4 separate regions of the Homo sapiens genome follow, and regions 2, 3 and 4 are each reported to be linked to region 1. Evidence: microRNA targets listed by miRTarBase, many of them from high-throughput screens and not tested one by one. Region 1 holds a microRNA gene; each other region holds the end of a gene's coding sequence.
The links. The annotated mature microRNA hsa-miR-633 reads CUAAUAGUAUCUACCACAAUAAA and lies in region 1 at 2,198-2,220, shown strand. An mRNA with a match to its seed (bases 2 to 7 or 8) in the 3' UTR can be bound and repressed. Matches are read on the target gene's strand: a 7mer-m8 pairs with bases 2 to 8, a 7mer-A1 pairs with bases 2 to 7 and ends in A, and an 8mer does both.

Region 2: the mRNA of PREPL is a reported target of hsa-miR-633. Seed matches in the 3' UTR shown: 7mer-A1 at 164-170.
Region 3: miRTarBase lists DDIT3 as a target of hsa-miR-633. Seed matches in the 3' UTR shown: 7mer-A1 at 509-515.
Region 4: the mRNA of TOP1MT is a reported target of hsa-miR-633. Seed matches in the 3' UTR shown: 8mer at 2,706-2,713.

What each region holds. Positions count from the first base shown.
Region 1 is chr17:62,942,078-62,945,168 of GRCh38, forward strand. MIR633 (microRNA 633) reads left to right here and starts at 2,138; the gene lies at 2,138-2,235.
Region 2 is chr2:44,318,616-44,321,706 of GRCh38, forward strand. PREPL (prolyl endopeptidase like) reads right to left here. Exons shown (of 14, transcript NM_001171613.2): 14 at 1-2,830. The coding sequence ends at 2,741. SLC3A1 (solute carrier family 3 member 1) reads left to right here. Exons shown (of 10, transcript NM_000341.4): 10 at 1,584-2,879. The coding sequence ends at 2,024. Among named protein-coding and RNA genes, the nearest start is that of PREPL, 41 kb to the right of the region's middle.
Region 3 is chr12:57,514,047-57,517,122 of GRCh38, reverse strand. DDIT3 (DNA damage inducible transcript 3) reads left to right here. Exons shown (of 4, transcript NM_004083.6): 4 at 1-530. The coding sequence ends at 314. MARS1 (methionyl-tRNA synthetase 1) reads right to left here. Exons shown (of 21, transcript NM_004990.4): 16 at 2,272-2,403; 17 at 2,065-2,169; 18 at 1,787-1,973; 19 at 1,132-1,203; 20 at 786-878; 21 at 471-688. The coding sequence ends at 542. Among named protein-coding and RNA genes, the nearest start is that of MIR6758, 2.9 kb to the right of the region's middle.
Region 4 is chr8:143,306,681-143,309,771 of GRCh38, forward strand. It overlaps TOP1MT (DNA topoisomerase I mitochondrial), which reads right to left. Exons shown (of 14, transcript NM_052963.3): 14 at 2,644-2,863. The coding sequence ends at 2,761. Among named protein-coding and RNA genes, the nearest start is that of ZNF696, 17 kb to the left of the region's middle. RefSeq lists enhancers at 626-1,126, 1,127-1,627.

The DNA of each region.
Region 1 (3,091 bases):
CCCACCTCTCTAACTCAGCACCATGTTGTCTGGGTCACTTATTTAGAACTTTTAAGTTTCTGTTCTCTTTTTGTTTTTATTTCATGTTGTGTGTCTTGGTTTCTCAAATAGATTGTATATTTAATGTCCTTTCTATGTCTGCTATAGGCTGTCTCTATAGTATATGCTCAATAAATGTTTATGGGATAATTAAATTTGTTGAAGAATAAATTGGTAATGAGTGACTGACCTTGTTGTTTTCTAAGACAGAATCTTCCATCAATTTGTTAATTGTTATTCTGAGATTTGATAAAGGAAACTAATATAAATATAAACAAGAAAAGCTTTAATAAGGTCTTGGATGAAAAATCCATGAAGGACAGATTGGATGTTCATATTTCATCTTTAACCTTTTGAAATTGATTTGATGCCTCTTTAATAAAATCTTTCTTGGTATCCTTGTCAAATGTATAAGGCTGGTGAGAGTATATCACAGGTATGTCATTTATTTCATTCTAATATGAGTCATTGTACTATTCTGGATGTTAAAGAAATAAAAGACACAGCCCTTGAGCTTTCCAGAGAAAAAAATCTAATTGGAGGCTAAAACACACACCCATAAACCAACTTGAGGTAAAATCCAAAGAAACATTTTAGTAACGTCAAGAAATATGGTGTAGTGTAGACTAAAGCTGCAATAGATAAGGAAAAGAAAAAGAAAAAATGATTACACTTGGGATGTGTTTATTATAAGGAAGGCATCTGAAAAAAGGTAAATTTTGGCTTTAAAGATTAGATGGAAATATACAGAAAAGAAGGGGCATAGATTTTTCTAAGCAGTGAGAATTACATGCAATACACGGAGGCAAAATAGTAAGTTATTATACATTCAGGCATCTATAAATAGACAGGCTTGAGGAATCAAGGGAAAGTATGAAGCTAGAGAGAGGTGGAGGAGCAGTTGATAGAAGACATCAAATATGTTTATTTTTGAACTAGTGTGGAATTCTCTTTCTCTTTTCAGTAGAAATAACCTTCACTGTCAACAGCCCAGTCAGACCCCTTAGCTGATATAATGACGATCGCAACTTCCTAGGCTATTATTTGCAATAATTTCTGCCATATGAGTGTAATGGGAAAAATACATTGCAAAGTGAATGACTTTTGAAATGTATTGCATGCTGACATTTGGGAAATTAGATCCTGAACACAATGCATCCTGATTATTGAGGTGCCTTGCCACCATGAAAAGATAAATACAGTCCAACCATTCAAAAAATCTGCATGTTAAATTAATTTAAAGTTCTGTCCTTCGGCAAGGTTCTTCTCAAAACTTTTGGTCACTATTCAGGCAAATAACCATGAGCAGACACTATCCCTGGCCTAGATAGCCTACGTGGGTCTGAGGAGTCCAGAAGTGCCCTCGTTCAAACATAGCTCCATCTTATGAGGAATCCTGCTGTGCTCATTCTCCTATGTACTTGACTGCTCCAGTGCTAGAGGTGCCTGTGCTCAGCTGGCATCCTTTCCATTTCCTGGGAGAAGCACAGCCACGCTCTCTTATGAAGAACAAACAACTCTTCACATCTCCATTCCCACACAGCAAATTCCTCCAGCACCACCAACCCATCTCATCATGAATGTGCATTTGCTTTCCTCTGTAAAGTTTCTGTATTGACGGGCTGCTGGGCTGAGCAACAGTAATTTCAGCAGTCCTGGCTCCACAAGCACAGGTCAGGAATGGGTTTGAAGAAAGCTCTTCTGAAGATATCACAAATTTTGCTGTTTTAAGCCAAGGCCTGCCTTGTTTACTGAACATGTCCAATTTGTGTGCTGAATAGAGCAATATAACGAGAGGAAGGGAAGATGGACAGGGAAATAATGGGACCTCACGTGCAGATTACAAACAGAACCTAGAAATTAACTGAGAATGCTAAAGAGGAAGAGGAATATGAAAGCAATAGTGAAGGGTCAATAATTTCCACATAAATCAGACCAGATGATTATTTTGATCATTAAATTGATTTAACCACAGCTTTATATACAATCAGAGTACATGGCTCTATATATAACAACAGCTCTTGGTTGTAGTCAGAGAGGACTGGGTTTGAGTCCTGGCTTATTGCTTACCTGATTAATGGTTTTGGTTATGCTACTCAACCTCTCTTAGCCTCTGTTTCTTTATTGCGGTAGATACTATTAACCTAAAATGAGAAGGCTAATAGTATCTACCACAATAAAATTGTTGTGAGGATAAAAAAAAATATTAATTAGGATGCAGTATGAAAAAAATAAAAGTTAGCTATCTTTATTTTTGAAATTTATGTAAGTCTAATTTCTCCAAAGTAAATTGGCTTATATTCACCAGGAGGAATGTCTAATTAAAAGAATCTTATTCTGAGTCTTTTGTGGCAGCAGATTATCACTATCTGATCTTTCTTTTACTTCTGTATTTTCATTGAGTTGGCTTACATAAAGCTGCACTTATAAATTTAAATATGCCTCCAATACCACTCGGCAAGTCTTCTTATAGAGAGCTAGATACATATTTAATAAACAGTTAATATAGTTTGCAACTTCCCCAAAGTAAATTAGGTGAAAAATCCCAAATGCTTGAATTTGGGGAAAAATTTACACATATAAATATGAATTTATTTATTTATTTATTTATTTTTAATTTTTTTTTTTTGAGATGGAGTCTTGCTCTGTTGCCCAGGCTGGAGTACAGTGGCGCAATCTCGGCTCACTGCAACCTCCACCTCCCCGGTTCAAGCAATTCTCCTGCTTCAGCCTCCCAAGTAGCTGGGACTACAAGCACATGCCACCATGCCCAGATGATTTTTGTATTTTTAGTAGAGACGGGGTTTCACCATGTTGACCAGGCTGGTCTTGAACTCCTAACCTCATGATCCACCTGTCTTGGCCTCCCAAAGTGCTGGGATTACAGGTGTGAGCCACTGTGCCCGGCCGAATATATTTATTATTGTTAGCCCTTGTTACAATGCTGCCATTTTATAAATCAGGAAACTGCGGCAGAGAGAGGTTAAATAGCTTGATCAAAGTTACATTGATTGCTGGGCACATCCTCTCCATCCTTTTCCAGGTGCCTTAT
Region 2 (3,091 bases), not on the chromosome of region 1:
TGCCTATGCAAACATATGATACATTAAAAACAAAAGAACATATAGTGCCTGTCTCTGAGGGGAACTGTGAAGCTATGGAAAGGTGTTGAAGAAAACCTTTTTATAGTATGTATTCTTGTAATTGAATAAAAAATAAAATTACAAAAATCAGGCTTGGAAGTATTTAATAGCAGACAAAATATAGTTCAATATGAAAAGCATTATATGAGACAAAGGCAATTTTCAAAAATTGATAAAACATTCCACCAAAAATCATGACTACGCATCTAACAGCTTCAAAATATAGAAAATACTCAAATGCAAAATCAACAAATCTGCAATTACAGAAAAAGACTTCAACATACTTTTAGAAAGTAGTAACTCAAGTAGACAATAATAGCTAACACTTACCGGGCACTTCTTATGTGAGTGGCACTGAAACATGTGCTTTCATGCATTACCTAAGGCTAGAGAAAATGTTAATAACTTAGACAAGTCATACATGTATCATAAATATCTTTGTACCTGACAAACAGAATAAACATCTTTTTAAACACCATTAGATAATTATTTAAAGACCACATATTGGGAACCTACCCCTAAAGAACAATAACAACCACAATAACAACTATCACCCCAGTAAACATGGCTGGCAAGAATACAATTAAATGAACATTATCACTGATTTGGCAACAGCTCTTATGAAGAATAATTTGGCATTATGTATCAAGTGCCCATACTCTTTGACAAAGTAACTGTCTTTCTGATAATCTATCTTAAGTAATACAAAAATGGGGGGAGGGGAATAAAAATACAAAATATTAGAAACACTATCGTCAAAATGAAAGGGCATGGCTGAGTATGGTACAACCGTTCAACAGAATATTGTCATTAAAAACATTTATGGAGGCTATATTATATAGTCAATAACAGAAAATGCTTGAAAGGTTAGAAGTACATCATCAAATTATGTTTTATATAGCTGTAAAATAAACCCAAATCATCTTTAATGAACACATACTATTATGGTAAAAAAAAGTCTACAATTTCTAACTTTCACCTTAGGCAGCTTTTTATTTTGCATCCTTTTTTTCAACTTTGTCTTCTATTAGCTGTGCAAGAAATACATGTCTGCTAAAGTTACACGATCTTCGCACAACAGCAACCTACACATTAGTCTACAAAGGGGAACAAACCCAAATTCCTCAGAAGTCTGAGTCCACTGTTGCCTTCTTTCTGGCCATCTGGCAGTTACAATATAGCACAGAATGACTATGCAAGTTAAATATTCATCTTAGACATGGACATTTGCTTTGGGACTCCTAAAGTGGAGTCAAATTTGATCTCTACAGAAACTCTACAATGTAGCAGAGCACTGTGCGTACTTATTGACTCCCAGACAAGCCGAAACCCCGAATTTGTCATTTCTATCAGTTTTTATATAAATTGTTCTTACCTACTTATTGATGCTTACAATTTGGCAATTATAAGGGGCAAAATTGGAGCAAGTGTTTTGGGTAAATAACTCCTTACAATATATTAAAAATACTTACAAACAATTCTTAGAATCAAACACTTACGTAAATACTTTTTTAAAAAAATAGGTCCAAAAGACTCAGCCCAGATCGGCTTTGAAGTTATATCAAGATTTAAGTCTACTTCATGCCAATGAGCTACTCCTCAACAGGGGCTGGTTTTGCCATTTGAGGAATGACAGCCACTATGTTGTGTACACAAGAGAGCTGGATGGCATCGACAGAATCTTTATCGTGGTTCTGAATTTTGGAGAATCAACACTGTTAAATCTACATAATATGATTTCGGGCCTTCCCGCTAAAATGAGAATAAGGTTAAGTACCAATTCTGCCGACAAAGGCAGTAAAGTTGATACAAGTGGCATTTTTCTGGACAAGGGAGAGGGACTCATCTTTGAACACAACACGAAGAATCTCCTTCATCGCCAAACAGCTTTCAGAGATAGATGCTTTGTTTCCAATCGAGCATGCTATTCCAGTGTACTGAACATACTGTATACCTCGTGTTAGGCACCTTTATGAAGAGATGAAGACACTGGCATTTCAGTGGGATTGTAAGCATTTGTAATAGCTTCATGTACAGCATGCTGCTTGGTGAACAATCATTAATTCTTCGATATTTCTGTAGCTTGAATGTAACTGCTTTAAGAAAGGTTCTCAAATGTTTTGAAAAAAATAAAATGTTTAAAAGTAAATTATGGCTTATAGGAGCTTATAACTTTATTCAGATAGCATCAATCAGGGATGACCAGAACACATTAGGACCCCAGATTATTCAAAAACTTTAACGAATTTTAAGGGGAAGAATTTTATCTTTTCCCTTAAAATGCAGTCATAGAAATTAGAGGATGACTCACTGCCACAGTGTCTAAAAGCATTTGCTAGCAAAGAGGCAGGACACTAATTTGTAAACTGCTCAACTGTTCTGACTGGAAGGGAGGCCTGGAGCTCTGCTATCACCAATCCTTCCCTTCCCTCTACTCCACATCCTTCTAAGGAGCATGATTTGAAAATTACTTTCCTAGGTTAATGGGCATGTGCATCAATGGAGAGAATAGTATAAGCAAGTGAGATGTAGACTAAGCAAAATTTAGATGGAGAAGCACATTTTAAAAAATTAATAACTTAAAAGTCTCAAGTTATTAATTTTTTTTTTGCTAACTCAATTGGAAGTAAGACTATGAAATATTTCAGTGTGTTTCCAATTCCCAGTTGAATGCAGTGTTTCAGAATTTCAGGTATTTCTTAAGATCCTCGAAAACACTGGTGCTGTCAAGTCCAAGTTCCTCGTACAGGAATTTAATTTGGGCTGTAATCTAAAAGAAACACATTAAAAAAATTAAATAGAAGGCCTTTGTAGTAAAATGCCACTGTTTAAGCTTCTCTTTATCTATCCATCTTTACCTAACCGTGAAGTCAGCAATTTATGGCAAGAATACTTTCATTCGAGAGAGAGGCAGAAGGCTTCCAACAATTAAGATTAAATTATTTTCTTTAACAGAGCTCACGTATCAAGTACAAGAGAGAGACATTTCTCTTGATTGACACAGTGTCCCTCCCTCCCCTCCTGGGTCTCA
Region 3 (3,076 bases), not on the chromosome of region 1:
AGGAGCCAGAACCAGCAGAGGTCACAAGCACCTCCCAGAGCCCTCACTCTCCAGATTCCAGTCAGAGCTCCCTGGCTCAGGAGGAAGAGGAGGAAGACCAAGGGAGAACCAGGAAACGGAAACAGAGTGGTCATTCCCCAGCCCGGGCTGGAAAGCAGCGCATGAAGGAGAAAGAACAGGAGAATGAAAGGAAAGTGGCACAGCTAGCTGAAGAGAATGAACGGCTCAAGCAGGAAATCGAGCGCCTGACCAGGGAAGTAGAGGCGACTCGCCGAGCTCTGATTGACCGAATGGTGAATCTGCACCAAGCATGAACAATTGGGAGCATCAGTCCCCCACTTGGGCCACACTACCCACCTTTCCCAGAAGTGGCTACTGACTACCCTCTCACTAGTGCCAATGATGTGACCCTCAATCCCACATACGCAGGGGGAAGGCTTGGAGTAGACAAAAGGAAAGGTCTCAGCTTGTATATAGAGATTGTACATTTATTTATTACTGTCCCTATCTATTAAAGTGACTTTCTATGAGCCAAGGTCTTTTACTTTTTCTTCTTGCCTTTAGGGGCTTCAGGGGGTTTCCCCTCAGCTACAGCCAACTGTTTCTTTAGATCCAAGAGTTTCGCCACCTCCGCAGCAACCTCGTTCTTGTCTGCCTTTTGTGCTTTCAGTTCTCGGACAATGTTTCCCTAAGATAAAGGGGGGTGGGGAGGTAACAGTGAGGCAAGAAAAAGATCTATTTAGGATTCAGCTTGTCCAGTCTCCCACAGGGCTTAAGCTTCATACTTGTTTTGTCACTTCATCCATCAGCGCTTGTATCTGCTGTGGCTTGGCTGTTGTAACAGTCTCTACAACTGCTGGCTTCGGGGACGTTTTTGCCTGGAGAACAACAAAGTTATCACCAGCAACCATAAATATCCCCTAACCTCCAGTTTTATACAGCATCTCAGAGGGAAAGTGGTTACCTTTAAGTCGAAGGTCTCTTCTAGTTAAGACAGGAAAGAAAAACTGTAAGTGAGGAAGCGGCAGGGCCAAAAGATGGAAAGAGTGATGGGTGAGGACTACTTAGGGAAATTAGGGAAGTGATGCTGTGGCTGTTGTGGAGCGAGGGCACAGCCTTTAGCTTTCTCACCTGGCCCCCTCCAAAGCGCTGCCTTAAACTTTCAATCTGGTCATTTTCCAATTTTTGGAACAAGGGACTGACCTGTAAAAAAAGAGTTCCAGAATCATCTACTGATTGGATACAGACTCTACCATAGACTATACAGATGACCTCTCCAACCCCAATCTCTGATGTGTTTTAGAAAGAACGAGCTTAACACTGAGCTAATATCTGCTGATTTTAGGAAATTAGCTGTAGCTTTCCCTGTGAAACCCCAAATAATTTGTAGGGTCAAAGATTCTTTAAGCTCTCTAAGGATGCTAGGCTGATCCAGAAGTTTAGCAATGTACTTACTTTTTCATTTTGTGTCAAAGAGGAAATGGCTTTCCTGTATTTTCCCTGCCCACTATCTGCTAGCATTATGGAGACTAGGTGATCACAGTGTTTCTTCAAATATCTGTTTACCAGTTAGTTTTGTGTGCCAGGTTCTGGTTTCTGGCATGAAGAACAATGAAGATGTACAGATAATTCCGGACTTGTGAACGACTACCAAGGACTTTATATCAGAAACTTAGGAGTCCCATGACCAAAGTAACACTGGAGAGATGTTAGGTCTTCTCTCACCCACTCCAAAAGCTGCATGGCAAGAGTATCAATTTTAAGAGAGGCTGGCTCTTCCACCTACTGTGCCAATCTGGTGTCCTGCTGGTAAGGTACACAGGAAGTTTGTCAGCAGGATACTGCAGGCTGGAGGTGGGAGCTGCAGCTGGGCCTGGATTGTGGCACTAACCGTGGGCATGTAAGGCTGAAGCATGACAGAGAGCAAGGCAGCTATATTCACTGCCAAGCCAGTCACTGTTCCTGCCCGTTGCCTGAGGAAGAGGAGACATTAGTCAAGACCTCCAGGAGGATACAGCTTACAAGCCACTTTATGCCTTTAGCCAACCCTCCCCGCTTACCTACCTGTCAGCCTCACTGCCTTTAATCCGCTTCCAGGGCTCATTCACCTGAATATATTGGTTGCCATGTCGAGATATGGTGAGGATACTGCGCAAGGCATCCCGGATCCTGGGAAGGGAGGAAGCAGGCCAAGGTGTAATGTCCTACAGAGACCAATACAAGGAGGCTCTCAACATGCCAGCAGAAAAGACAGAGGTGTCAGTTACTTACCGAACCTTCTCAAGTAGCTGGTGATAGTGCTGGAGCTCCAGGGTGACATGGGCCAGCAGGCGCTGATCATCAGGGGTGAGCACCATCTCAGGCACATAGCCCCCAAAGAACTTAGACACAAACATCCCAGCTCTTGGTTGGGAGTAGGAAAGCAGAAGTGGAAAAAAGAGGGGAAGTTATTATCCCGTCTCCTTGTTAGAATTTCACCCAATTTCCACAGCTGTACATTCTCTCAGGATTCCTGCCTGGAACAGGTAACTCCTGGCTCCCTCAAGCTAGTAGACAAGGCCTAATTATTTACTCTTTCTCTCCCCTAAGAATCTGACTCTGCACATAAGAAACCTGATTAAGTTAAACAACTGTACCTCTTATTTTTAAGAAGTCATTACTCGGCCGGGCGCAGTGGCTCACGCCTAAAATCCCAGCACTCTGGGAGGCCGAGGTGGGCAGATCACCTGAGGTCAGAAGTTCAAGACCAGCCTGGCCTGGCCATGGTGAAACCTCGTCTCTACTAAAAATGCAAAAAATTAGCCGGGCGTGGTGGTGTGCACCTGTAATCCCAGCTACTCTGGAGGCTGAGGCAGGAGAATTGCTTGAACCCGGGAGGCGGAGGTTGCAGTGAGCCAAGATCGCGCCACTGCACTCCAGCCTGGGCAACAAGAGAGAAACTCCATCTCAAAAAAAAAAAAAAAAAGTCATTACTCAAAATGACCAAGCTGAGTATGTGTTAACTGCTATCAAACAAACACTCTAGGCAAGTACTTTTTTTTTTTTTTAATTTTTTTTTTTTTTGAGGATTCTCACT
Region 4 (3,091 bases), not on the chromosome of region 1:
GTCGGGCCTGCACCCTCAGTGGTTTCCCTTCTGGAGTCTGGGCCTGCTCGGCCAGTGCCCTCATTTTCTGTGGAGCTGTTCCATGTCTGGGCACAGAAGCACCTCTCTGGGAGCAGGTGGGGACGTGAGAGCCCCCTGCTGGAACTGTTCTGTCACAGGCCCCGGGAGGAGCTGGACCTGCTGCCGGAGCCCCTTGGGGCAGCGGGTGAGCCGCGGTGTGAGAGACTCGGGCCTGGAGCACCAAGGGCCCCACAGCAGGAGGGATGGGGGTGCAGCCTCCAGGGCGCTGGGGTCCTCTTGGCTGACCAGGAGCCTTACACAGGGGCTGCCTCATGGGGTTGGCGGGAGCCCCGGTGTGAGGGAGACAGCCACAGAGGCAGCCCCGAAAGCAAAGCGCGGAGCAGATGGCAGAGGATCCCACGTGGCAGAGGAGAGGGCAGCAGAGGATCCCACGTAGCAGAGGAGAGGGCGGCAGAGGGTCCCGTGTGGCAGAGGGCAGCAGAGGGTCCCACGTGGCAGAGAAGAGGGCGGCAGAGGGTCCCGCGTGGCAGAGGATCCCACGTGGCAGAGAAGAGGGCAGCAGAGGATCCCACGTGGCAGAGGAGAGGGCGGCAGAGGGTCCCGTGTGGCAGAGAGGGCGGCAGAGGGCCCTGCGTAGCAGAGGAAAGGGCAGCAGAGGGTCCCACGTGGCAGAGAAGAGGGTGGCAGAGAAGAGGGCAGCAGAGGGTCCTGCGTGGCAGAGAGGGCGGCAGAGGGTCCCGCGTGGCAGAAGAGAGGGCAGCAGAGGGTCCCGCATAGCAGAGGGCGGCAGAGGGTCCCGCGTGGCAGAGGAGAGGGCGGCAGAGGGTCCCGCGTGGCAGAGAGGGCAGCAGAGGGTCCCGCGTGGCAGAGGAGAGGGCAGCAGAGGGTCCCGTGTGGCAGAGAAGAGGGCGGCAGAGGGTCCTGCGTGGCAGAGAGGGTGGCAGAGGGTCCCGCGTGGCAGAGGAGAGGGCGGCAGAGGGTCCCGCGTGGCAGAGGAGAGGGCGGCAGAGGGTCCCGCGCGGCAGAGAAGAGGGCGGCAGAGGAGAGGGCAGCAGAGGGTCCCGCGTGGCAGAGAAGAGGGCGGCAGAGGGTCCTGCGTGGCAGAGAGGGCGGCAGAGGGTCCCGCGTGGCAGAGGAGAGGGCGGCAGAGGGTCCCGCGTGGCAGAGGAGAGGGCGGCAGAGGGTCCCGCGTGGCAGAGGAGAGGGCGGCAGAGGTTCCCGCGTGGCAGAGGAGAGGGCGGCAGAGGGTCCCGCGTGGCAGAGAAGAGGGCGGCAGAGGAGAGGGCGGCAGAGGAGAGGGCGGCAGAGGGTCCCGCATGGCAGAGGATCCCACGTGGCAGAGAAGAGGGCAGCAGAGGATCCCACGTGGCAGAGGAGAGGGCGGCAGAGGGTCCCGTGTGGCAGAGAGGGCGGCAGAGGGTCCCACGTGGCAGAGAAGAGGGCAGCAGAGGGTCCCACGTGGCAGAGAAGAGGGCGGCAGAGGGTCCCGCATAGCAGAGAAGAGGGCAGCAGAGGGTCCCGCGTGGCAGAGGAGGGCAGCAGAGGGTCCCGTGTGGCAGAGAAGAGGGCGGCAGAGGGTCCTGCGTGGCAGAGAGGGTGGCAGAGGGTCCCGCGTGGCAGAGAAGAGGGCAGCAGAGGGTCCTGCGTGGCAGAGAAGAGGGCGGCAGAGGGTCCCGCGTGGCAGAGAAGAGGGCGGCAGAGGGTCCCGCGTGGCAGAGAGGGCGGCAGAGGATCCCGCGTGGCAGAGGGCAGCCGACAGGCAGCTCTGAGAGGATACAGGGTTGGGAAGCTCAGGCAGAAGGCCATCGTAAGAGCTAAGAGCTACGTATGGAGAGTGTGGAGGTGATGAGAACTGAACGGGGGCCGCTGGGCTTAGTGACCAGGCAGCAACTGTGCCCTTGCTGAATTCCAGGCGCTAAAGAACTTGGTGAAGAGTCCGGGCCCCGCTGAGAGGGTGGCGCGTGCGCAAATGTGGAATCCTCACCCAAAGTCCTCAGCCTCAGAGCACACGAAGGTGTTTCTCCTCCCCTGTCGAGCGGGAACCGGGGGTCCAGGCTGGGACGCTGATTGGATGTGACAGCCCAGCAGACTCCATGCTCGGGGTGGAGGCTTCAAAGGACACGGCAGGCGTCAGGGACTTTTCTTTCTCTTTGAGATGGGGTCTTGCTCTGTTGCCCAGGCTGGAGTGCAGGGGCGCAATCACAGCTCATTGCAGCCTCAATGTCTGCTCAAGCAATCCTCCAGCCTCAGGCCTCTAACATGCCAAGATCACAGGTATGAGCCACTGTGCCTGGCCTAGGGACTTTTTCTTTTTCTTTTTTTTTTTTTTTTGAGACAGTCTCACTCTGTCGCCCAGGCTGGAGTGCAGGGGCACGATCTCGGCTCACTGCAAGCTCCGCCTCCCGGGTTCACGCCATTCTCCTGCCTCAGCCTCCCGAGTAGCTGGGACTACAGGCGCCCGCCACCACGCCCGGCTAAGTTTTTTGTATTTTTAGTAGAGATGGGGTTTCACCGTGTTAGCCAGGATGGTCTCGATCTCCTGACCTTGTGATCCGCCCGCCTCAGCCTCCCAAAGTGCTGGGATTACAGGTGTGAGCCACCGTGCCCGGCCGGCCTGGGGACTTTTTCTAGTGATGTACAAGCACTTGCACACATTTTATTGTACAAAATTCCCCAGTACTGCTTTAATAGTGAAAAAAACACACACACATACAAAAGAAGTTTCAACACGGCTCGTCGTTAGAATTCAAAGTCTTCTCCTGCCATGGCGAGAGCCCAGGCGAACCTCTCCCGCTGTGTTTTGCTGTAGATCTTCTCCACTGGCACCCTGAACCGCTTGCACCTGCGGGAGGCAGCATCAGCCCAGGCAAGCAGGCAACTCACCCACCTTGAAGGCCAGGTCAGGGTGCTCGGCAAGGGCGAGCGTCCTCCATGCAGCAGAGACACCAGAGCCGCCTGGTGTAGCTGGGACCTGCTCCTCTAGGCCAACCCCACCCCACGCATGCCGCCACCCTGGAGCATCAGCGAGGTGTCAAAGACAACCTGCTGTGGCCTAGGTGTCCACCGAGCA